Linked DNA regions of Homo sapiens: regions 2 and 3 are each linked to region 1. The links come from fine-mapping of genetic effects on gene expression. A gene starts in region 1. Each other region holds a variant in brackets. All regions are shown on one strand. Distances are between the middles of the regions. Region 1 holds the start of PADI4 (peptidyl arginine deiminase 4). Region 2 holds the start of MIR3972 (microRNA 3972). Region 3 overlaps ARHGEF10L (Rho guanine nucleotide exchange factor 10 like).

Evidence for each region. PIP is the estimated chance that this variant, and not a neighbour inherited with it, causes the effect.
Region 2: its variant is fine-mapped to the expression of PADI4 in whole blood (TOPMed, PIP above 0.99).
Region 3: its variant is fine-mapped to the expression of PADI4 in liver (GTEx, PIP 0.99).

Annotation. Positions count from the first base shown.
Region 1 is chr1:17,304,789-17,312,966 of GRCh38, forward strand. PADI4 (peptidyl arginine deiminase 4) reads left to right here and starts at 3,409. Exons shown (of 16, transcript NM_012387.3): 1 at 3,409-3,526. The coding sequence starts at 3,435. RefSeq lists an enhancer at 1-591.
Region 2 is chr1:17,274,830-17,282,996 of GRCh38, forward strand. It overlaps PADI3 (peptidyl arginine deiminase 3), which reads left to right. Exons shown (of 16, transcript NM_016233.2): 12 at 1,690-1,834; 13 at 1,945-2,047; 14 at 5,521-5,600; 15 at 5,842-5,967; 16 at 8,017-8,167. It overlaps MIR3972 (microRNA 3972), which reads left to right and starts at 3,060; the gene lies at 3,060-3,146. The variant C/T (reference allele first, on the strand shown) is at 4,412.
Region 3 is chr1:17,545,857-17,554,034 of GRCh38, forward strand. The region is part of intron 1 of ARHGEF10L (Rho guanine nucleotide exchange factor 10 like); the gene reads left to right. Among named protein-coding and RNA genes, the nearest start is that of ARHGEF10L, 10 kb to the left of the region's middle. RefSeq lists an enhancer at 1,197-1,841 and a silencer at 8,158-8,178. The variant A/T (reference allele first, on the strand shown) is at 4,497.

The DNA.
Region 1 (8,178 bases):
CAAATCTCAGGAAAAGAATGAAGCGCTCTGCCAAAAAACTAAAGAGGGGCAAAGATGAATCTACAACATACCTGCAAATAACCACAGACACGGGCACAAGTGATGCATCGCTGCATGGTTTATGACACTGAAAACTTGCAGACAGCCCCCATGTCCAACAGTAGGGGAGCAGCCATGTCAGGATGCAGCTGGAGCTGCAGGCACAGGTGGGGCACGCGCCAGCCCCAAGTCTGTTGGCCTCTCATTCCACTGCCCTTGGCTCCTGCCCTCAGCCCTGCCCATCACAGAGCCCGTGGCCCTTGTTCCACTGTGAGTGACCAAGTGTGTTTCTACAAAGAGGCTTTGCTTCCAAAGTGCAGCCGTTTTCCCTCAGTGTGAGTGAGTGTGTGTGTGTGTGTGTGTGTGTTACAAACCTAGTTTTGCATTGCTCCCTGTGTAATTGCAAATAGCATGCATTCTCTTTTGCATCTCCTCTCCCTCATCACTCCCCTGGGTCTCTGGTGGAGGACCCCAGGGCTCATCCCTCGGCCTTCTCTCTTCCCTATCCTCACTCATTCCCTAGGGGAGCTGGAGATGTTGACATCTCACTGTTTTATCCTTTTCAGCCTGGTCCTGTCTCTTAAGCTCCGGAATCATGTGTTCAAACGTCCTACAGGGCATCATCACACCAAATGACACTTGGCAAAGCCAGGACCAAACTCCTGATCTCCACCATGCCCACCCCCCGCCCTTCCCTCAGCCTTCCCTGCCCAGCTGCGGGCAGCCCCATCCCTCCAGGGCCTCAGGCTCCAAACTGCGGTGTCCTCCTCCATCCCTCTGTCTTTCTTAACACCCCTCATCCAGTCCCTCTGCAACTCCTATTGGCTGTATTGCATCACAAAATGTCCAGAACCTGACCCATCCTCCCCTCCTCCACTGCCACCACGCTAGCCTGAGCCCCACCGTCTGTCACCAGCCTGTGTGCAGCGGCCACCTCACAGGTCTTCTGGCCTCCTCCCGGGTCCCCTACAGTCTGTTCTCACATCACAGCCAGAGTGATCACGTTCAAGCAAGTTGGTTCGCGGTCCTTCTCTGCTCAAAATGACTCCAGGCTCCCCACGTTACTTGGAGCAGAGGCCAAAGCTCTTAGGATGCCCGAAAGGCCCTATATGATCGCACCCCGCCCTGGGCTGCTCTCCCCCTCCCTCACTGCATTTCAGCCACACTGGCCTCTTTGCTCTTTCTTGAACCCGCCAGGCATGTCCCTGCCTCAGGGCCTTTGTACCGATTGCACTGGCTGTTCTCTTGACTTGGAACCTTCTCCCTGTGTTCCTGGTAGCCTTTACCCTGTCCTTTTTCCTTTTTCTACCCCACTAACATACGATAGAATCCACTTACTGCATTTATTGCTTACTGGCTGTCTCTCTCCCAACAAAAACAAACAAACAAAAAGGCTCTATGAAGGCAGGATTTTTGTCCACTTTGTTCACAGCGTATCCACGGTGCCTGGAACAGTGCCTGGCCATCAATAGGCACTCAGTCAGTATTTGTTGAATTAACAAAACTGCTTTGGGGCTCGTCCTCTTTGTGGCTCGTTCACAGCAAATTTAAACCCCAAACTGCTGAAGAAAATAAGAAAGAAAAGAAGGAACAGAAGAAAACAACCTCAAGAGACCTAAGACTTGGGGTAGAGGCCAGCCCTCCCTCTGATTTGCTGTGTGACCGTGGGCAGGTCCCACTCCCTTTCTGTGCTTCAGTCTCCCCTTCTGCAAAACGAGGACTGGATTGGGTGTTCTCTAAGGGCCCTCCCAACTCTAACAATGGACAGCTCCCTCCTGCCACTTCCCAGTAGAAGCTCAAACTAGTTCTAATCATGCGGTCAGCCAGAGAAATTGGGTTTATTAACACTGTGTGCAGGCAGTCATGTAGATGCGTCAGAACGTCGGACCTGGCCACATCATCATCTGCTGGTACAGAAGATAAATTTTGAGCCCAGAGAAGGTGGTCTGAATCCAGATCCCCACTGTAGGGCTTATGAGACCTTGGGGGTCTCACTCAATCTCTCTAAGTCTTTGTGGTCTCATCTACACATGGGCATCCTGATAGGACGCACTCCATAGGGATGTTGAGATGAGGCAGGATTTGAACTAAAGCCTGTTTGATCCCACAGCCTGACTCTGAATTAATGAGGCAAATTCTTTGCTTCAAAGCCAAAGCAAGCAAACAAAAAACAAACGCAAGATATCCAACCCACGAAACGCTCTATGTTCACGCCAGACTCCCATGCATGCACCCTTTGAGTGCTCCTTGTTGGGACCCATCCACCACCCCCCAGTTGCCTCATTAAAGGCAGAGCCTGGCACCAATGGCCCAGGTGCAACCACAGCTCTGAGGCCACATGGGCATCCCCCTGGCAGGCGTGGCCCACACCTGCACTGTCTGGTCTGACACCCAGAGGCCCTGGCAAGAGGCAGGTATCCTGGAGCATGCAGAGAACATCAACTTCCATGCCAGGAAGCTCATCTTCTCTTCCCAGCTCTGCCGCATTCTAGCTCTGGCACCTTGGGCAAGAGCTAGTCACTTTTACTCTCTGAGCCTCAATTTTCCTTCTGTAAAATGGGTTGTAATAATAAGCCCATATACACCTTGTATTGTAGCGAGATGTAGCTGTGATACAGTCTGGAAAGCACGTGTCATATAGACAGGCAGCTAATGAATCTCACACTCTGGAACTGGACACCTTTGGTTCCAATTCTGGCCCTACCACTCTCGAGCTGTGGAAGAACTGCACCTCTGTTTTCTCCTCTGTAAAATGGGTATAATAATGGCACCAACCTCAGAGGGCTGCTGTGAGGGTGAAATAAGGGGATAATGGTATGATCTAGTTCACGGGTTTGTCGTAATGAGCTATTCTATGTGAAGTGCAGGAAAACGTGCCTGGCATAGAGAATGTGAGCTGTCATGTGGGTGGCCCAGGTGGAGAGACTTGTCCCAAGCCTGGTTGGTCTTTGAACGTGTAGCCTGGCCTGTGACTGCTTACCTAAAATCTCCCCGCTTTTCCCACCTTCTCCTCTCTGATATGCCTGTTTGACATAGGTGAGATTGGATAGATCAAGGTGTTCAGGGCCTCTAGGCAGGGATGGGACTGTGGGCATGAGGACCAGGACCCAACCCCTCAGCCCCACTCTCCACCCCAGGCTTTCTGAGCCATCCATCCTTCCCAAGAAACTGACAGAGCCACCCTGCCACTGGTACCAGCATTGACACCCATCTAGAGGTCCGAGGGGCAGCCCCAGGGCAGAGGAGATTTTGAGAGCCCACACCCCTGACCTGAGTGGGGAGGGGTTGAGCCTCTGGGCCACAGACCGCAGGTGCTGACTCATGGCCTCTGCTGGGCGATATAAAGGAACCAGCCCAGGGGCTTCCTACAGCCAGAGGGACGAGCTAGCCCGACGATGGCCCAGGGGACATTGATCCGTGTGACCCCAGAGCAGCCCACCCATGCCGTGTGTGTGCTGGGCACCTTGACTCAGCTTGACATCTGCAGGTAAGAGGGGGGCCTTCTGGGGTTTTGGAGGCAGGTCAGGAGATGCTGGATGACCCAGTTCTACTGACACAGGAGCATGTGTTTGGCCCAGGCTCTAGGCTCCAGCCTCTGCAGCCACTGCCAGGGGAGTAGCTGGAGAGAGAAGACCCCAGCAGCCCTGGGAAGTGCCAGTCTCATGGCTGTGGGTTCTTTGCCATGTACAAGTGCAAATTCCCCAGGAACACACGACAGATAAATTATTATGGGGCAAACCAGGCCATCCATCTCCCTGTCTTCATCGAGGCAACAGAAGCTTACAGAGAGTCTGTGACTTGCTCAAGGTCACACAGCACGTGTGCCCTGGAAGTAAGGTTAGCCCCTGGGCCTCCTGGTTCACAGCACAGTTTGTTACCCCACATCTCTTAGCTAAGCCTCCCTCAGTGGGTGCATAATAGCGTGGGTGGGGATGGCGAAACGGGGCTCTGTGGCGGCAGAGACTGAGGTAGGAAGCCTGGACCTGCTGCTGGCTAGCAAGGAGGCCTTGGGCAACTGAGCCTCAGTTGCCTCATCTGTGAAATGGGGATAATACTCACATCATGGGCTGGTTATAGGAATTCAATGTGAAAAAATGTGCAGATGTTGGCTGAGTACTTAGCACAGTGGTGGGCCCATCCTTGGTAGTTTTTATTTACTCATTTAACAAATGCTGAGTGCCATGCTCTGTGGCAGGGTCTGGGTTAAACAAGAGAGTTGAGGAATGCTCTCGGGGAGTGTGCAGGGTCATTGTTGTTATTGTAGAACAGGAATTAAAAGAAATTTTAAAACGTGTAAGCAAAAACTCAGTTCTATGTTAAAAAAAAAAAAAACAATTTTCCCTGGAAAAAAAAAAAAAAAAGAGCTGGAGTCCCTTAAAAATTAACTGCCTGTTTTTTTGTGGCTAGTGAGCCTTATTGCTCCTCTTTTTCCAGGCATTGTAAAGACCCTGTTTCTCCAGCTGTGCAGCTGCAAGGTCACTAGACAGATAAACTCAAGCTGTAAAAATTTTTTTCCTTAAAAAGTAAAAAATAATATAATGCATGTCTCAATTAAATAACTGTCTTTGTTTCTTGCCTCTATAATATGCTTCCCCCTGCACAGATCTACCCCCGCCCCATGAAATGCTTAAAAGATAACTTAACTCTTTGTTCAGGGCTCAGTCTTTTGAAATGTTAGCCTGACTGAGCCAGTGAATCTAAATAATAAATCCTCCTCAACCCCTCGGTCTCTCTGATTCCTAAATTATCCTGCAACAATTGCTGTTGTCAGGAATAGGAGTGGTTGCCCCTGGCTTCCCCATCCCAGTCTGGGCATCGGTGGCCCTAGAATGGTGCCCACAGGAGTGCCGGGGACATTTCTTTGCTACTGCCTGAGCCCCAGCAGCCAGAGAACAGCAGGAAATGTCGGGATGGTCTCCCAGGGCCACATGGTGGAGGCAGGAGACCAAGAAGTTGGGGAGAAAAGGAAAAAGAAAATCACCTGACATCATCTGAGGCGCCCCCAACTCCTCTGAGAATGGGTGTGAAGGAAATGACAGGAGCTGAAGCTAGCCCAGGGCCTCTCCCAGCATGCCCAGGCTAGCCCTCTACCCAGCGTCCATGAGTAGTAATCAAGATCACAAGTGCTTCCTCTGGCCCTAGAGAGGTGGGTGGACAGCTGGTCAGTGTTGGGCAGAGAGGAAGGCACTGCCCATTTCTCCCAGAAAGGATGGGGACTCCGGAGTTCACAGGGGCCTCTAAATCCTTCTTTTCTCCTCCTTCAGCCACACGTTGAGCCTGTCACTCTATCCCCTGAACATCTCACGTAACAATGGCTAATATTTACATCACACTTCCTACATTCAACTCATTCAATGGCCTTGGGAGGCAGGTAATGTTGTTATTCCCATTTTACAAAAGAGGAAACAGAGGCTCCAAGAAGTTAAGTAACCCACCTCAAGCCACACAGCTAATAAGTAGGGGAGCCAGGACTCAACCCAGGCAGCCTGACTCTAGGACCCTCCATTCTCCCCATGGGTCTCCGTTCCAGACCTTCCTGTCACTTCTTATCTGTTCTTAACATAGCCCCAGACAGCGCCTCCCTCCCATCTCCTGAGCAGCCATCGGCCTCTTCCTGAACCACACAGGTGGGAGGGCCACTCCCTCCTCACCTCCGCCCCTCATATTCATGCCTCCATAACTTTGCTCAAGCCATTCTCTCTGTCCCCAAAGTCAGGAACCCGGGAGGCAGAGGTTGCAGTGAGCCAAGATTGGGCTAGTGCACTCCAGCCTGGGTGACAGAGTAAGACTCTGTCTCAAAAAAAAAGAGGCAAAAACACCTAACCGAGGGTCACATAAATTAAAGGTGGCAAGCTGGGCACGGTGGCTTATGCCTGTAATCCCAGCACTTTGAGAGGCCAAGATGGGCAAATCACTTGTGGTCAGAATTTCGAGACCAGCCTGGCCAACATGGGGAAACCCCGTCTCTACTAAAAATACAAAAAAATTAGACGGGGCGCAATGGCTCACATCTGTAATCCCAGCACTTTGGGAGGCCGAGGCAGGCGGATCACAAGGTCAGGAGATCGAGACCATCCTGGCTAACATGGTGAAACGCCGTCTCTACTAAAAATACAAAAATTAGCCGGGCGTGGTAGCACGCAGCTATAGTCCCAGCTACTTGGGAGGCTGAGGCAGGAGAATCGCTTGAACCCAGGAGGCGGACGCTGCAGTGAACCGAGATTGTGCCACTGAACTCCAGCCTGGGCAACACAGTGAGTCTCCGTCTCAAAAAAAAAAAAAAAAATTAGATGGGAGTAGTGGCACATGCCTGTAATCTCAACTACTCAGGAGGCTGAGGCACAAGAGTTGCTTGAACCTGGGAGGTGGAGGTTGCAGTGAGGCAAGATTGCACCACTGCACTCCAGCAAGGGCAACAGAGTGAGACTCTGTCTCAAAAAAAAAAAAGTTAAAGGTGGCAAAGCCAGGACTGTCTGACCCTAAACCCACCCTGCTTCGCAGCCCACCCTGCCTCCAAATGCTGGGGAGTGGACTCCCCTGGGCACTGCTCCCTGTGGGCAGAGCTCATTCAACTTCCAAAGGATTTGGTAAAGGCCTAGAAGGGGTGGGGGTCCAGGAGGTGCCAACTGCAAAGGGCAGTGTGCATTCAGAAGCTGCCATCTATGGTCTCTCTTCTTCCTCCCAAAGTCTCCTTCTTCTTTTTTTTTTTTTTAAAAACGGAGTCTCGCTCTGTCCAGCCCAGGCTGGAGTGCAGTGGCAAGATCTTGGCTCACCGCAAGCTCCACCTCCCGGGTTCACGCAATTCTCCTGCCTCAGCCTCCCCAGTAGCTGGGACTACAGGCGCCTGCCACCATGCCTGGCTAATTTTTTTGTATTTTCAGTAGAGACGGTGTTTCACCGTGTTAGCCAGGATGGTCTCGATCTCCTGACCTCGTGATCCACCCGCCTCGGCCTCCCAAAGTGCTGGGATTACAGGCTTGAGCCACCGCGCCCAGCCGGGTTTCCTTCTGAATAGACCAGTTGGCATGACAGTGGGGAGCCTGGACAAGTCTGTTTGTCTCTCTGAGCCTCGGTTTACCCATCTGTAAAATGGGAAAATTAACACCCCTTCCTGGGTTACGGCGAAGATTGAATTATATAATGCACACAAAGTGTCTGGCAGAGGGGTCCCCTTTCCAATGCAAATCAAAGAAAATGACTAAAGTGAGTGTCAATCATTTTCAGAGGTTTATTTCCAAGGTTAAGGACGTGCCCAGGAAAAGAATACAGAAACAGGAAAAATCTGTAGTCCGTGCTTTTTCCTAAATGGGTCTGGGACTTCAATATTTAAAGGGAAAAGAGTGGGAATTGGGCCGGATGTGGTGGCTCACGCCTGTAATCCCAGCACTTTAGGAGACCAAGGAGGGTGGATCACCTGAGGTCAGGAGTTCGAAACCAGCCTGGACAACATGGTGAAACCCCATCTCTACTAAAAATACAAAAATTAGCCGGGCGTGGTGGCAGACGCTTGTAATCCCAGCTACTCAGGAAGCTGAGGCAAGAGAATCACTTGAACCCAGGAGGCGGAGGTTGCAGTGAGCTGAGATTGCACCATTGCACTCCAACCTGGGCAATAAGAGTGAAACTCCGCCTCAAAAAAAAAAAAAAAAAAGTGGGTATTGGGGCAAAGAGGAAGAAAGAAAAAAAAGATGGGTAGATAAGAGGTAAGTGGTTGCATTGAGTCTTTGATCAGCTTTCACTGAATACATTTTCCGTGTGAGGTGGGGAGAGGAATAGTCACTTATGCCTTGAGCTCAGGGAATCTATATTGTCACAAATGATAAACATAGAGCAAGGGAAGAAATCAGATATGCATTTGTTGCAGGTAAGCAGAGGGATAACTTTGATTTCTGTCCTTTGTTCCATGCCTGTGAAGATAAGCTATTAACTTACATTGTCAGGGTGAAATTCAACAGAACTGGTTCACGGGAAAGATCTTAGGGCTCACAAGGAATTTCCTTGTCGGCAAATTGTGAGGGAGATATGTAGCTTTTTTTTTTTTTTTTTTAATCTTTGTAGCTATCTTATTTAGAAACAAAATGGGGCTGGGCATGGTGGCTCACGCCTGTAATCCCAACACTTTAGGAGGCTGAGGCGGGC
Region 2 (8,167 bases), 30 kb before region 1:
GGGTTGGGGGTGGTGATGATGGTGGAGCAGGGGCCATTGCACTCCTTGAAGAGAGCCAGAAGCAAGGAATGATGAAATTATACTCCCGGATGTGCTGGGGTTGGTGGGTGTTCACCAGACACAGTCCACACTTACCTCGGGGACTCTGAAACCAGAGAGAGCAGAGACCTAAGAGATCATTCAGTCCAACACTTTCATTTTACAAGTGGGCCCAGAGAGGGTAAGTGAGTCACATAGAAAGCAAAGTTATAACTAGACTCAAGTTTTCTGATTCTGAAAATAAATAGATGATACTAGTAACAGTCAATTAATAGTAACAGAAGAAGAGTGGGCATGGTGGTTCATGCCGTAATCCCAGCACTTTGGGAGGCCAAGGCAGGCGGATCATGAGATCAGGAGATCGAGACCATCCTGGCTAACATGGTGAAACTCCGTCTCTACTAAAAAAAAAAAAAAAATTAGCCAGGCGTGGTGGCAGGCGCCTGTAGTCCCAGCTACTCAGGAGGCTGAGGCAGGAGAATGGCATGAACCCAGGAGGTGGAGCTTGCAGTGAGCTGAGATCATGCCACTGCACTCCAGCCTGGGCGACAGAGCGAGACTCCGTCTCAAAAAAAAAAAAAAAAAAAAAAAGTAACAAAGAAAAAGTTTCCATTCCCAACAGTCCTGGGAGAAAATGCATTTAGGTCAAAGCTTGTTCATACTACCATGTAAATGACTAATATAAGATCTTTTCCTGAGAGCAAGAGAAGTGAGGTACAAGACATGCTAAGTGAAATGACAATAACATACAGAGAGAGTAACAAATGATGTGTTGTTCAGTAGTGACACAGGGGTGCTGATGGAAAAGGAATCCTATCATATTGGTTACTTGCTGTGGACTAGACCAAGACATTGAGCTAACCAAATGCAACAAAGCTGTTAGAACAGACTTGGGATCAAATAATGAATGAATCCAGAGTCAAGCTTTGGAAGGGACTACTGCCCTCAAATACATAATCCCATTGAAAGAGGAAGCTGGACCATGCCCTTAGATACATTTTCGTAAAAATTGAACATGGGGGTGAAATCTGTCTCTTGGAGAATAAGAACCTGGTGTGAGGGTGGTTCTGAAGATTTTCCTGGATGGTGGGACCTGGTAGGTCATTGCCCTGGTGTGACTGACCTGTCCTGAGTCTGCCTCATGCAGAACTCACCCTAAGTGGAATTTTAAAATATACGTATCTGGCTGGGTGCAGTGGCTCATCCCTGTAATCCCAGCACTTTGTGAGGCTGAGGCGGGCAGATCACTTGAGGTCAGGAGTTCGAGACCAGCCTGGCCAACATGGTGAAACCCCATCTCTAGTAAAAATACAGAAAAATTAGCCTGGCCTGGTGGTGCACGCCTGTAATCCCAGTTGCTTGGGAGGCTGAGGCAGGAGAATCCCTTGAACCTGGGAGGCGGAAGTTGCAATGAGGCGAGATCACGCCACTGCACTCCAGCCTGAGTGACAGAGTGAGATTCCATCTCAAAAATAAATAAATAAATAAAATGAAATATACATATTTATTACTTTCCTGTTTATAAAAGTAATGCATGTTTTTTTGTTTTTTAAAAATCAGATATTGCAGGAATGCTAAACTCTTGTCATTTTATTTCTGCATGGAGTCTTTTTAGTTAAGCAACTTTTTTTTTAACCTCGTGGGTCCCAGGTCAAGTGGCCGCAGGGTCACCCAGGTGGTGCGGGACTTCCTCCATGCCCAGAAGGTGCAGCCCCCCGTGGAGCTCTTTGTGGACTGGTTGGCCGTGGGCCATGTGGATGAGTTTCTGAGCTTTGTCCCTGCCCCCGATGGGAAGGTAAGAACTTCGTGCATGACGTGTCTTTCCCTGGCATCTGGGGCAAGAACTGAGCTCCAGGGCGCCATGCCAAGGCAGGAGGCTCAGCTGAATCTGTTCTCTGCACGCAGGGCTTCCGGATGCTCCTGGCCAGCCCTGGGGCCTGCTTCAAGCTCTTCCAGGAAAAGCAGAAGTGTGGCCACGGGAGGGCCCTCCTGTTCCAGGGGGTTGTTGGTGGGTAACAGTGCCGTGTCCCTCCTTGCGGCTTGCCTGCCCCTTACCCAAATTAAGACACATCATGGCTTGAGAGGGGGAGGGCAAGTTTTAAAGCAGGGGTGTGTCCCCAAATTCAGGGCTTCTCACTCCTGCCCCTGCACACCTTGCTTCACCAGACACCACTGCCCACAGCTGGGGCCGAGCTGAGGTGGGAAGCGGGGTGATAGAAGGTGGACATGGACTGAGCGGGGACATAGTGGCTTCCCAGGCAGGTGACCAGTGCAGTCACGGCGTGGAGCTTTAATGTTCTGCAGTCACTATCCTGAAATCTCCCTTTTTTTTTTTTCCTTTTTGAGACGGAGTTTCACTCTTGTTGCCCAGGCTGGAGTGCAATGGCGTGATCTCCACTCACCGCAACCTCCGCCTCCCAAGTTCAAGCGATTCTCCTGCCTCAGCCTCCTGAGTAGCTGGGATTACAGGCATGCGCCACCACGCCCGGCTAATTTTGTGTTTTTAGTAGAGACGGGGGTTTCTCCATGTTGGTCAGGCTGGTCTCGAACTCCTGACCTCAGGTGATCAGCCCGCCTCGGCCTCTCAAAGTGCTGGGATTACAGGCGTGAGCCACCACACCTGGCTGCCCTGAAATCTTAATTCTGTTTTGTGAGGTCTGATGGATCAGTGGAGCATCTACGGGGCTTGGAGCCTCTGCTCAGGCACAGTCCTGTCTCCCAGCCTCCCTGCCTCCCTGGCACAGATTCTCTGCTGCCTACTTCTGTGCTCCCTGGAGCCTCAGTGCAAGGCCTCCCCCATCTCTGTCACTGTCCTGAGATGCTGCAGCACTCTGCCCCCAGCAGGAGCCTGGGCATGGGGAGGGCTGGGGTTGGGCACATGTGCCACTCAGCATCTTCATGGCATCAGTCGTCCCTGCCCTGCAAGGGCATTTGGTGGGCAACTTGGGAGGGGTAAGTGTCTCACCCAGGCTTGCTCAGGTACCCAGCACATACCCAGAGGCCACAATACTCTGGAGGTCGCCCATTTGCCTTGGCTTGGGGTGGCAGTCCTGTGGGAATGAGAGATGCCAAACTGGACCTGCCAGCCCCGTTCCAGGGCACAGCATGTGGGTCTCATAGCAGAGGCATGCCCAAGCACAGCCCCCTGGGAGCTAGGCCTCCGCTGTGAGGCCCACAGGGTGGGCCCTGACACCAGCAAGGGACTGTCCAGCCCCATGCAAGTCCCCGGCAAAGCGCAATGTGAAATAGCAAATAAAAACCACCCTGACAAGTCAGGAGAGAGACTCGGGGACAAAGAAACAACTTTATACTGTAGCACTTTTAATGGTACTCTTTTGTCTGCTCTTTAAACAAGGAGCTGGCATTTTCTTTTCTTCTTTTTTGAGACAGGGTCTATCAGCCAGGCTGGAGTGCAGTGACATGATCTCAGCTCACTGCAGCCTCGACCTCCCAGACTTAAGCGAGTCTCCCACCGCAGCCTTGCGAGTAGCTAGGACCACAGGCATGCACCACCACGCCTGGCTAATTTTTTGTATTTTTTGTAGAGATGGAGTCTCACCGTGTTGCCCAGGCTGGTCTTGAACTCCTGAGCTCAAGTGATCTGTCTGTCTTGGCCTCCCAAAGTATGGGATTACAGGTGTGAACTACTGTGTCTGGCCAGGGCCCACTTTTTTTTGTTTTGTTTTTTGTTTTGCACTGGAAGAATTTTGAGAGAGAGAGAGCTGGCTGGACTGGAGTCATCTGGCAAGCTTGCTGGAAGCGTTCTCAAATTCACTCCCTTTCCAGCCCCACTGAGACTGCATGAATCCCAGAGGATCCTCCCTTTCTCAGTGACCCCAGAGGTCCCAGGGCAAAGACCCTTTGACACGCAGGATCATAGATTTTCTTGGTCCCATGGCCTCAGGGAAGGCAGATAGCATCCTAGACCAAACACAGCTCAGAGAGAAAAAAAGCTCCTGTAGAACTTAGACGCCCCCAAGTATAATAATTTCCAAAGTCCCCTTGCTCTCTGTTTGCTAGCGTTAACTTCTTCCAACACAACCCTGGAGCCTTAGCAATAAAATGGAAGAGAAATAGTCTTTCTTGACCCTGTTGCTCCCAAACGCACCCTAACTAGACTCCGGTGAACCTAGAGTAAGTCTTAGAAATCCTTAAATCCAAATTATGTACCAGGCAGGGAGAAATGCCACCTTCATCTTTCCTGGGAGAACTTATGGTGAGCAAGACCCAGGAATGGGTTGAGCAGAGTTATTCCAACCTGCCCAGCTGGGAGGGAGCGTGGGAGAATTCACAGATGGCAGGCCACAAGCAGCCACCCCACCCTCGAGGGCTGACACTCAGGCAGTGACTGTGGCGATTAATTACATAGACA[C/T]AGAGGCCAGACACAGAGGCCAGAGCACTGATTAGACACCTCAGTGCGCCAGGCCTCACGCTGTGTGCATCACACGTGTTATCTCATTTGATCTCACGAGAGATCAAATGGGATGACTCTCACCCACCTTTATTCCCAAGAATGTGAGGCTCAGAGAGGGGATGTCACTGGCCCAGAGGCCTCAGCAAGATTGCAGTGGAGCTGGGACTGGACCCCAGCTTCCTGCCTTAAACTGGGGTGAAGCGGGCGTTAGACCTGCAGATGGGTCAGGGGAGCCCTCTCCTTTCCCTTGGTCAAGGCTTGAGGCCCTGTGCGAGCCCTGGGCTTGGGTTTGAATCACAAGCCCCCACATATCCTACCTGTGTGACCTTTGGCAAGTCTTCTGACCTCTCTGAGCCTCAGTTTTCTCATCTGTAAAGTGGGGATCATAATGCATACCTTGTGGGGGTCACCGTGAGGGTTAAATGAGATGCTGAACCTGGGCACTCCCCTCGGGGCCTGCTCATGGTAAGCGCTTACTAAGTAGCAGCCATGAGGATTGTGTGCCATTGACTCTAGCCTCCGCTTCCCTGTCCAGTCTCATCTGCATGGGCACACCATCAGGCTGAGAAAATCTGGACCCCTGGGAGGTCCCCATTTCACGCAGTCACCCCCTGAAGGGCAGGATTGGGGCTGGATGGTGTCTGAATCCCAGGACTGGCTGGTTCGCTGCTCAGTGAACCTATAAAACCTGACTGATGGTGGGTGGGTGGGCAGCAACTGACCCAGCTCCCCGCTAAGCCAAAGCAAGAGGATTCCTCATCCAGTGCCCTCGGGCAGTTGTACATTTCCAGTGACAGGCGTTACCACTTCCAGTGAACTCAAATAAAGGTCTCAGTTCATTCCACTGTGGCAACCAGACCCTCCCACTCCTTATACCCCAAGATGTGCACAGTGGCCAAGGCAAGCTCAGACAGGTGGAACCCACCCAAGGCCTGGGAAAGTCAGAGGCTGCTGACTCGGCAAGACCATTAGCTGTGAACTTGGCTCCTGCCTGTCTGCTTCCCTAAGCAGGTGGTCCTCACGTTGGTGCTGTCCCTGTCCTTCTCTTTCATCTCTCTCCTTCACAGATGATGAGCAGGTCAAGACCATCTCCATCAACCAGGTGCTCTCCAATAAAGACCTCATCAACTACAATAAGTTTGTGCAGGTACAAGGGCTGTGGTGTACCTGTGGGCTGTGATTTGGGAGTAGGCGGGGCTGGAGGCAAGGATGGGATACAGACATCTGAGGCTAACTGTTCATGAAAGCTCAGGTTAGAACAGGCCCAGACAGAGGGGTCCCAACACCCTCTTTTGACCCAGAAGAAGTGAGGGGAGCGACAGGATGCCTTGGTGCCCCCAAAACACACTGGCAAGGTGTCCCCAACTCTGGCCCTCCCCTGCCCCCAGAGCTGCATCGACTGGAACCGTGAGGTGCTGAAGCGGGAGCTGGGCCTGGCAGAGTGTGACATCATTGACATCCCACAGCTCTTCAAGACCGAGAGGAAAAAAGCAACGGCCTTCTTCCCTGACTTGGTGAGGGCACTACCCATGACTCCTTTGCCAAATCAGGCTGCAAACCTCTAAGCTCGAGAGAGGAAAAATGTCTGGTCACAGTCATATTTAGGATTGTGGTGGCCAGTGGGGGTGGCAGGGAGAATCAGGGGTCCTATGGTGCTCCTCAGAAGGGCTTCTAGCTGGCTGACCACCATGGTCCCTGTGGAATGCTTGCTGGCCAAGCCCTGGCCCAAGGGGCATCAGGGAAGGGGTCCACTTGACATTTGTGGAGTGAATGAATGATTGCATGAGGTCACGTGTGCAAAGCACATGGCATCAGCTGGGAACCCAGATGCTCATTCTGCTCTCTTCCTCCCAGCTTGTGGCTCTTCATCCATCCCACATGTATTTAGGGTGTCCTGTGGCAGATGCAGAGATGATTAAGAATGCCCCCTGCTCTCAAGGGACTTTCAGTCTAATCGGTTGAGAGGGAAACTCTTCCCTTCTCTGAGGACATGTCCCAGTGATCTATTTTGTAGGATAAGGCGATGTGGCAGTTTGGAGGTGAGACAAAGCACTTCCAGCCTAAGAGGTAGAACTGGAGATCCAGGAAGTCTTCATGGAAGAAGTGGCTTTTGACTGAGCCTTGAGGGCTTTGCCTCTGATGCTTGTAAATCTTTTTTTCTTTTTTTCTTTTTTTTTTTTTGAGACGGAGTCTCACTCTGTTGCCCAGGCTGGAGGGCAGTGGCACAATCTCACTCACTGCAACCTCAGCCTCCAGGGTTCAAGCGATTCTCCTGCCTCAGCCTCCTGAGTAGCTGGGATTGTGGGATTGCAGGCGTGCACCACCACGCCCGGCTAATTTCTGTATTTTTAGTAGAGATGGAGTTTTGCCATGTTGGCCAGGCTGGTCTTGAGCTCCTGACCTCCGGTGATCCACCAGCCTCGGCCTCCCAAAGTGCTGGGATTACAGGCGGAAGCCACCGTGCTTGGCCTGCTTCTAAATCTTGAGCTTGCCTTTGAAACACCTGGACAGGTGGGGCCCCACCCCAGCGGTCCTGATTCAGCAGGTCTAAAGCACGGCCCGAGGCACTGCTGCCGCGCTAACAAACACCCAGGTGGTGCTGATGCTGCCTTTTAGAGGAACACAGTTTGAGTAGCACTGCTATAGGTCACCCAGCTCCCCTCTCCACTCCTCCCCACCTCATCCCCTAAAAGAACTCAATTTGCCCATTGTCAGAGCCTTGTGGGGAACCTGTCCACACCACCATTGCTTCATGCCCCGCTTTTTCCTTCCTCTTTTCAGGCAACATTTTGCCCTCCGCTTGCAAAGCCTCTTTTCACTCCCCTTCCTTCCTGTTCGAGGCTATCTTGTAATTATATATGTGCCCCAAGAAGTTTGTGCAATGATTCAGGTTCTTGTGTTCGCAAGAGACAGAGTCCTACTGAAGCCAGCTTCAGCCAGAGGGAGTCTTAATATAAGGACACCAGAAACCTGAGGGCAGGATAGCTGCAGCAGAGCCTGGAACCCTCTCTGTTTCTGTGTCTACATCATTCATTCTCTCTCTTTCTCTCACCCTCTCCACCTCCTACTTCTTCTCCCTCTTCTTCCAGCTTGGCTTCCTTTGCTTCTCTGTTCCTGGGGACAAAGATGAGTATGGCCATGCACAGAGACACTGACACGGGCAGAGACCAACTAGACGCTCCCATTGTCAGTTTCAAATTCCTGGGAGAGGGACTCTGATTGGTCCATCTTGGACCAGCTGTTCTCCCTGGCCCAATCAGTTATGGCCTAGAAGGTTGGGATTCTGCAGCACAAACATGGCAGCTGCCACAATCCACAATTCCAAATTCACATTAGGGCAGTTTCCAGAGCACGTTGCCAGAGTGAGTTCTGCGGATGCTCCCAAAGGCACCTGGCTAACCGGTTCTTCCCAGCCCCTTTAGCCAGTTACCTTCTCATTGCACAGGAAAGGGTGAGTAGCTATTGACAAGGCTGTCTAAAACACAAACCTAGGTCCTGCAGGTAGAGTAGAGGTGTGGGGTGGGAGCCCAGTGATGAAGTGCTGCTTCCCCTTTGGACTGCAGGTGAACATGCTGGTGCTGGGGAAGCACCTGGGCATCCCCAAGCCCTTTGGGCCCATCATCAATGGCTGCTGCTGCCTGGAGGAGAAGGTGCGGTCCCTGCTGGAGCCGCTGGGCCTCCACTGCACCTTCATTGATGACTTCACTCCATACC
Region 3 (8,178 bases), 240 kb after region 1:
TTCATGCCTCTGAACCTTTGCACATGCTGCTCCTTCTACCCAGGGGAGTTAATGTGTGTTTTCTCCACCCAGAAGGAATGGCATGTGCAAAGGCTCAGAGGCATGAATTATTGAGAGTTCAGTCTGGCTCTGGTGTCAGGTGAATCAAAAGTCTGCAGGGCTTGAAACAGAGTAGGGGAAGCATTGAACCTTCCTCAAGTCAGGAGGCACAGCATCATCTGGGTGCCAGCAAAGGAAATCTGACAAACCTCACCTGTCAGGGGCCTTGTGCTGTGTGGATCACCCTGCTTCCCTAAAAATCTTTGAGGTTTCTTGGTAGTTTCCTGCTGTCCCTGAAGCTTGCTGGTCTTCCAGCCCCTGCATCTGTGGCTGGTGGATTCTCAAAAAAAATCCATGTTAATATCAAGCACAAAACTTAATTGGGAAGAGGGGTCTCCTGTTCTCCCCCCATTGCTAATTGATACCAGAAAAGCTGCTTCTGTCCTTCATTTAGGCAGATAATTGAGAACTTGTTTGCTTAAAGGCAACTGATTTTGACTTTATGCCTATAGGTGCCAGATATTTTTCATGCATCAATTCATTTAATTTCCATGCCGATCCTGCAAGTACGTCCTATTTTCCGATCTTATCGATGAGGAAATTGAGTCTCAGAGACTTATCCAAGGGCACTGTGTTTGTAAGTGGCAGGATTTGAACCCGGCAGGCCCTGAGATCTTTCTGCAGTCCCGTGCTCCCCTCCTTTATGCGGTTTTCCTTTTCCCTTTGAGGAGGGGAGGGAGAGATTCATCACATGCCTGGAATCTCAGCACACTTTGCCTTTCTTAGTTCGGAGTTAATGTATGTTTTTTTAATTCAGTGTTGGCAAGGCCCAGTCTGGTCATAGCTGGGTTTGTTACCTTGTGGCTCAGGGGCAAGGATGAGAATAGAATTCTGGTACCCACACGGGCTCCCTAGGCCTGGTGTCAGGAAAGAGCTAATACTAATGGCTCATAATTGCAGAGTGGCAGGCACCTTGGTAGTGCATGGCTCGTGGGAGCTTTCTCAGTTCTCAGCTACTCCAAGAGGTGGGGTGCATCATTATCTCTGTTTTGCCTCCATTGAACTTGCCCAGGGTTGAGCAACCAAGAGTTAGAAGCACCACATTCTGCTCGCCCCGGAGTCCTGCCTCTCCACTCTTGTGTCTTTCCTTGAGCAGCGCCAACCCTCCCAGGGCCTGGCCCGGCTGTGCCTTTGACAGCCCCTAGCAGCAGTGCCCATATGCTATGGAAAATGGGGAAGGATAATTGACCACTTGGCCACAGGCCCAGGGTCTGCCCACCTCTTGGTTAGAGCCAGCACTGAGCTCCCTGCCATGGGGTTCATCTTCCCACTGGCCTGTTGGTTGAGAGGATGGTCTCAGACCAGGCCCCAACACCACCTTCTTGCAGATACATCCCCAGTCCAGGGCAGTGCAGGTGGTTTGTGATGGTGCCAGCCCATGTTGGCATGTTGGGCCCAAGATGAGGTGGCATTTCTGAGTTTTGGAACCCCTCTTTCTCCTTGAGAGCCTGGCCCCAGAGTGCCCTCCTCTCTGTAAAAGTCCTGGTTCTAGTCGCTGGCTGATTGGTATGCATCCCAGAATCCCGGCCATTAGCATACAAGGCGGGAGCCAGCTCTCATTACTCCCCTCTCTTCATTGTTTGAAGTGGGCAGACTTGGAGTGAGCTTTGGAAATGTGGGCTTTTTATTCAATTTCCCTAGAAAAACAATGGTTAAATTAAGTAGGAAAATAACAGTCTCCCGAAATTGAAGAAAAATATTCCTGAACCTAGACATTACCCACAACCTTTGAATTTCTTTTAAAACAGGCATTTGTTTTACTTTAAGTTATACATGTATCGCATGACCACTGAAGAAAACACAGAGAAAATACAGAGAGAAGAAAATGGAAATCATTTTGCCACCTGAAGACAGCCTCTCTCAATATTGTGGTGCATATCATTCATGTATTCAGTGATTCATTTACTCATTTGGCAAGTATCTATTTAGGGCCCACAAAGGGAGAGGCTGTGTTGGGTTCTGGGAGTAGACGCTGGGAGTAGAGGGGTACCCTGCTCCCTGCTGGGGCTCTTTCTATGTTGGGCCTTGGGCAACTCACTTGACCCTTCTCTTATCTGTTTTCTCATCTGTGGAATAGGGATAACACTAGTAGCTGTGTCATAAGGCATGGAGATTTGACAAGAAAGGGCAGGTAGGATGCTCATGATATTGCGTGGCCCAGGTCAAAGCTTAGTAATGTTGGCTTTTGTCATGTAGGGGAGGAATATCTTTTCTTCTACCCTGTTAGGTTCTGTGATAGAGCCTATGAATTAAACTGACAAAAGACAGATTAATAGGAGAAAAGGCATATAGATTTTATTTAATGTTACTATATATATGTATTTTTTTACTGTAAGGGGTCTCCATAGAAAAGAAATGAAAATCCAAAGAGGCAGTTAGACCCAGGAGCTTACGTAACATTTTAACAAAGGGCGATAAATTGTGGAGAAGTGAGGAGACAAAAGAAAAGTATTGGACTCTTAGGGGTCAGTAAATTTCAGGAAAGTGACTAGGAAATGTATGGTAGATAAGGGTGGTTTAGTAAGGTTTGTTATGCAGATAAAGTAAGGTAGAGGGGTACACCTTTGCAAATGGAAATTTATGTCACCTTTACAAAGGGAAATGTGTGCCCTGCTTTTAGGCAGAAAAGGGGAGGCAAAGAGCTCTTCCTGTATTGGCTGCTGCTCAAGTACCTTGAGCTCAAAATAATTCTTTTTTTTTTTTTTTTTTTTTTTTTGAGACAGCATCTTGCTCTGTTGCCCAGGCTGGAGTGCAATGGTCTTGGCTCACTGCATCCTCTGCCTCCTGGGTTCAAGCAATTCTCCAGCCTCAGCCTCCTGAGTAGATGGGATTACAGGTGCGCACCACCACACTCAGCTAATTTTTGTATTTTTAGTAGAGACAGGGTTTCACCATGTTGGCCAGGCTGGTCTTGAACTCCTGACCTCAAATGATTCTCCTGCCTCAGCCTCCCAAAGTGCTGGGACTATAGGTGTGAACCACCACTTCTGGCCCTGGGATGGCATATTCTGATCCTTTTCAGTTACAACAGTGAGTAAGCTGACATTAACCTTGCCCTGGTGGTTTTGTTTTTGTTTTTGTTTTTGAGATGGAGTGTTGCTCTGTCACCCCGGCTGGAGTGTGATGGCATGATCTTGGCTCACTGCATCCTCTGCATCCTGGGTTCGAGCGATTCTCCAGCCTCAGCCTCCTGAGTAGATGGGATTACAGGCGCCTGCCACTATACCTGGCTAAGTTTTGTATTTTTAGTAGAGATGGGGTTTCACTATGTTGGCCAGGCTGGTCTCGAACTCCTGACCTCAAGTGATTCTCCCACCTCAGCCTCCCAAAGTGCTGGGATTACAGGTGTGAGCCACGGTGCCCAGCCTCGTGAGTCTTATATGATGGTGGAGGAGACAAAAATCAAACACATCAAATTTATAAAGTAACCACATGTTATGCATTAAGTCCTGTGAAGGAAACAGACTGGTGGATGGTGATAACTGGGGATGAGGGGTAGAGAGGGTGTATGTGGGGGTGGGGGTACAGGATTCGTTAGCTGCAGGTGGTCAGGGAGGCCTCTCTGAAGAGAGACATTTAAGCCAGACCTGAATGACAAGCAGGAGCTCCCCCTGCAAGGATCTGAGGGAAAAGTATTCCGGGTAGGAGCTACAGCAAATGCAAAAGCCCTGAGGCCAGATGAACTTGGCCTGTTTAGGAGGGTGTGGAAGAGGCCATGTTAGTTAGGACTGTTACTCTAGGTGCAAAAGGAAACCATCGGAGGTTTGTTTTCCACTTCCCATAAATACCTTTACTAATGAAATATAGTTCCAAGATTCCAGCTAGTAAAAACTCTGTTAAGAAATTCACCTTTTTCCAATAATTTATTCAAAAATAATTTACCAAGTGCCTATGATGTGGAAGCACTTGACTCAGTGCTGTGGGGTGATGGATGGGTACAAAGATATGGTGAAGTTTTACGCTCCAATAACCCATGGTCCAGCAAACAAGACTACGAACATTTGCAGGGTCAAGGGCAGGGAGGGACTGATTTACCTTTGCAAAAGATCCCATGTCTGCTGGGAGGAGAACTGGCTGTAGAGAGCCAGGGTGGAGGGGTGGAGCTGGGAACCAGAGGAAAGGCAAGGAAAGGTTCCCATTTGGCAGTGGAATAGGAGAAAAGTCTGGGGTTTGGGTTATATATCAGCTGGAATCAACTGGAATTTCTGGTGGATTGTACACAGGGGTGAGGGAAAGAGAAGAACTGAGCATGACTTCTAGATTCTTCTTTTGAGTCTCTGAGTGAGTGGTGGTGTCATGAAAGGAGACGGTTAAGAGGGAGTGAGGAGCATGGCTTTTGGAGAAACCAAGGGTTAGGTTTGGGGCAGGTTCACATTGAAAGGCTGGTTAGAAGTCCA[A/T]GGGGGTAGGCCGGGCACAGTGGCTCACGCCTGTAATCCCAGCACTTTGGGAGGCCAAGGCGGGAGGATCACTTGAGGTTGGGAGTTTGAGACCAGCCTGGGCAACAAGGTGAAACCCCATCTCTACTGAAAATACAAAAATTAGCCAGGTGTGGTGGCGGGCGCCTGTAATCCCAGCTACTCAGGGGCTGAGGCAGGAGAATTGCTCGAACCCAGGAGGGTGGAGGTTGCAGTGAGCTGAGACTGTGCCATTGCAGTATAGTGTGGGCAACGAGAGTGAAACTCCATCTCAAAAACGAAAAAAAAAAAGCCAAAAAACCCCAAAGAAGTCCAAGGGGGTAGTGAGGGCCTCTGGGCTGGAGATGCAAACTTGGGCATCCTTAACATATAAAGGGGACAGGTGTGACCACCCAGAGAGACAATTCAGAGGAGAGATCCCTCCACAGGGAGGTGAGCTCTGGGAGCTCTTATATTTATAGTCTGGTGGAGGAGGAGGAGCCAGGGCAGGCAGCCTGGGAGCTAGGGGAAGATGGGTGCAAGGAACTTACCTTTAGTGCCAGGTGCTGAACTAAACACCTGGGGAGGATCGGCCCCTGGTCCTCACGATAAGTCTGTGAGGTGCAGGTGCTATTAAGCGTCTCACCTTATCGAAGCGGAAAGAGGCCCGGAGGTGACCCAGTGCACCTGCCAGCAGGTGCACGACTGTGTAGGGAGTGAGGATTCACACCAAGGGGGGCAGTCCACCTCGTTTGCCCACGGCATTCCCGTGTTGCAGAGGAGGATTCCAAAGCTTGTGGTTTTGTTCATTTGTTTTCATTTGTCTGTCCTTGCATTCCTCTCCTCCCAACACATATTTACTAAGCACCTACTGAATGCTGTGCACTGGGCAAGGAACTGGAGATTCCAAGATGAGTAAGGTGTGGCGCCCCTTAATCTGGTGAGGGAGGTGGATGGGCAACAGCTGAAGGGTGGGCGGTGCCTGATGCAGGTGGAGGGACTCCGAGGAGGCTTCCCAGGGGAGTGTCCAAGCCAAGCAGTGGAAAAGGCAGAGTTAGGTCAGGAAGCAGGAGGCATCCAGGCATGTGCCAAGGCTCAGGGGAGGGAATAGCAGGGCCATGTCAGGGAGGGTGCAGGAGGGTGCTGCTCAGGAGCTCTGTCCATTGTACTAGGGGCTTGTACTTTATCTTGTGGGCCCTGCGAGCCAGTCAACTGTTTCAAGCTAGGGGATGACGGGATTAGAACTTTTTGTTTGGGGTAGAGATTGGGCTGCAAGGGACAGAAGAGTTACCAGGGAGAGCTTTCAAGGCTGTTAAAAGGCTCTCGATTCCTAGGTCATTCTCTGAACCCTGCTGCTTCCTTACTCCTTCCCAAATTCTGCTCATTTTTCTCTTCCAAAAAGATTTCCGAGTCAGAGAGGTTAAGCAACTTGCCTGAGGTCTCCCAGCGTGCCAGGTCATCCAGGCTGGGACTGGTCTTCTAACTAAAACAACCACAGTCCCAGGGGTGGAAGCGGATGGTGAGTAACCCCAGGGAGCGGCTCACTGGAGGCTTGAGTTGAAGGTCACCGTCCACAGTCCCCGTGTGGCTTTAAACATTGCCTTTTTGCAGTCTCAGAGAACAGTTGGTGCTTCTGGGCAGGAGGAGCTGGGCTGCTGCTGGGAGCCAGGGCTGGGGCTTTCCCAGAGCTGCACGGGTTATTTAAGCAGTTTCCTGGGCATCTGCTTCCTCCCCAATGAGTGATGGGAAAACTCCATGGGGCTGGTGCAGGATTTGATTAACAGGTCACATGAGGCCAGTGAGGGAGGCAGTCCCTGCTGGGAAGGGCAGATGCCAGGCAGAGGGCGAGGGGAGGGGGAGATGGGGAGCACTTCCCAGAGCCCTGTGCTATGAGCTCTGTCACTTTGGGCAGGTGTCTCACCTCTCTGCAGTCTTGGTTCCCTCGCCTGTAGAGATAATATGAAATGTGACCAATAGGACTGAAGTAATAACCAGTGTCCACTGTAGGCCTGAAGTGTGCCAGGTACCACGCATGATCTTGTTTCAATCTATCTTTTTTTTTTCTTTTGAGATAGAATCTCACTGTGTCACCCGGCTGCAGTGCAGTGGCATGTTCTTGGCTCACTGCAACCTCTGCTTCCCGGGTTCAAGTGATTCTCCTGCCTCAGCCTCCCAAGTAGTTGGGACTACAGGTGCATGCTACCACAGCTGGCTAATTTTCGTTTTTTTTTTTTTTTTTTTTTTTTTTTTTTTTAGTAGATACAGGGTTTCACCATATCAGCCAGGCTGGTCTCAAACTCCTGACCTCCAGTAATCTGCTCCCCTCAGCCTCCCAAAGTGCTGGGGTTACAGGCGTGAGCCACCGTGTCCAGCCTCTTGTTTCAATCCCTTGTCATCTTGTGAGCTATGGATGGTCATTATCTTCATTTTATAGATGACACAGCTAAGGAACAGAAAGGGTAGATATTTTGTCCCAGGTCACACAGCTAGTAAATGGCAGAATTTGAACCTGACCCTCTAACTCTGGAGCCCTCCCCTGAAATCCCTGTGGTCCCCCTTCAAACTTTGTTCAGCTGAGCATGAGTCCCTTCCTTGGCAAATCACTTGATAGGATCCTGTGGGGCACTAGCATTCTGCCCACTTGACTTTGGGACACCCCAGTCCCTACAACCCCTTAAGTTTTATCACGAAGACTTGGAGCTCCAGTGGGCCTCAGCCCCTGGCTCATCATCTTTCAGCCAAGTGGGGCAGACCCGGGACCAGAACCCCAGCATCCCAGACTCCTGGCCTTCTGCTCCTTTCACTCCTCCAGGGCCTCAGAGGGGGACTGGACTGGGAGCCAGTTGCCTGGGTTCTAATCCCACTTCTTCCTTGGACCAGCCAGAAGAGCTTGGGCAACATTTCACTTTGCCCCCTGCCTTTACCCTAAGCCTCAGTTTCCTCTTCTGTGAGATGGGTAGATTGAGAATCTAGAATCTCTACCAATTCTAATAATTCATAAGTGTAAGATTTCAGGTTTCTATCTAGGAATCTGTAAGAGTCAAACATTTGCCACCTTTTTCTACTTCCTGTCCTCTATTGCCTGTGGGACTCGAGGAGACTGAGATGAGGAAACAATTCAGTGAACCCTCTATAGTTTGACACACTGTAGTTTGAGGGTGGTGGCTCATGCCTGTAATCCCAGCACTTTGGGAGGCTGAGGTGGGAGTGTCGCTTGAGCCCTGGAGTTCAAGACCAGCCTGGGCAACATAGTGAGACCCCATCTTTAAAAAAAAGCCAAAAAACAAAAATTAGCCAGGCATGATGGTGGGCACCTGTAGTCCCAGCTACTCAGGAGGCTGAGGCGGAAAGATGGCTTGAGCCCAGGAGGTTGAGGCTGCAGTGAGCTATGATGGCACCACTGCACTCCAGCCTGGGCAGCAGAGTGAGACCCTGTCTCTAAAAAATAAAAAATATATAGCTTAATAGCAGCGTATGATGACGACTATCACTTGAGTACCACTGGGTGCCAGGCACTGTGCTGGCTGCATCATGAATTATTTTTTTGCCTACTCAACAGGGAGGCGAGTATGATTAGCTCCATGTTAAATGTGAGAACTGAGACACAAAACGTTTAGCTAACTTTCCCAAGGGTCAAGTGATTGCATGACCTGTATATGAAAGCTGGACTTCAAAGACCAGAGGA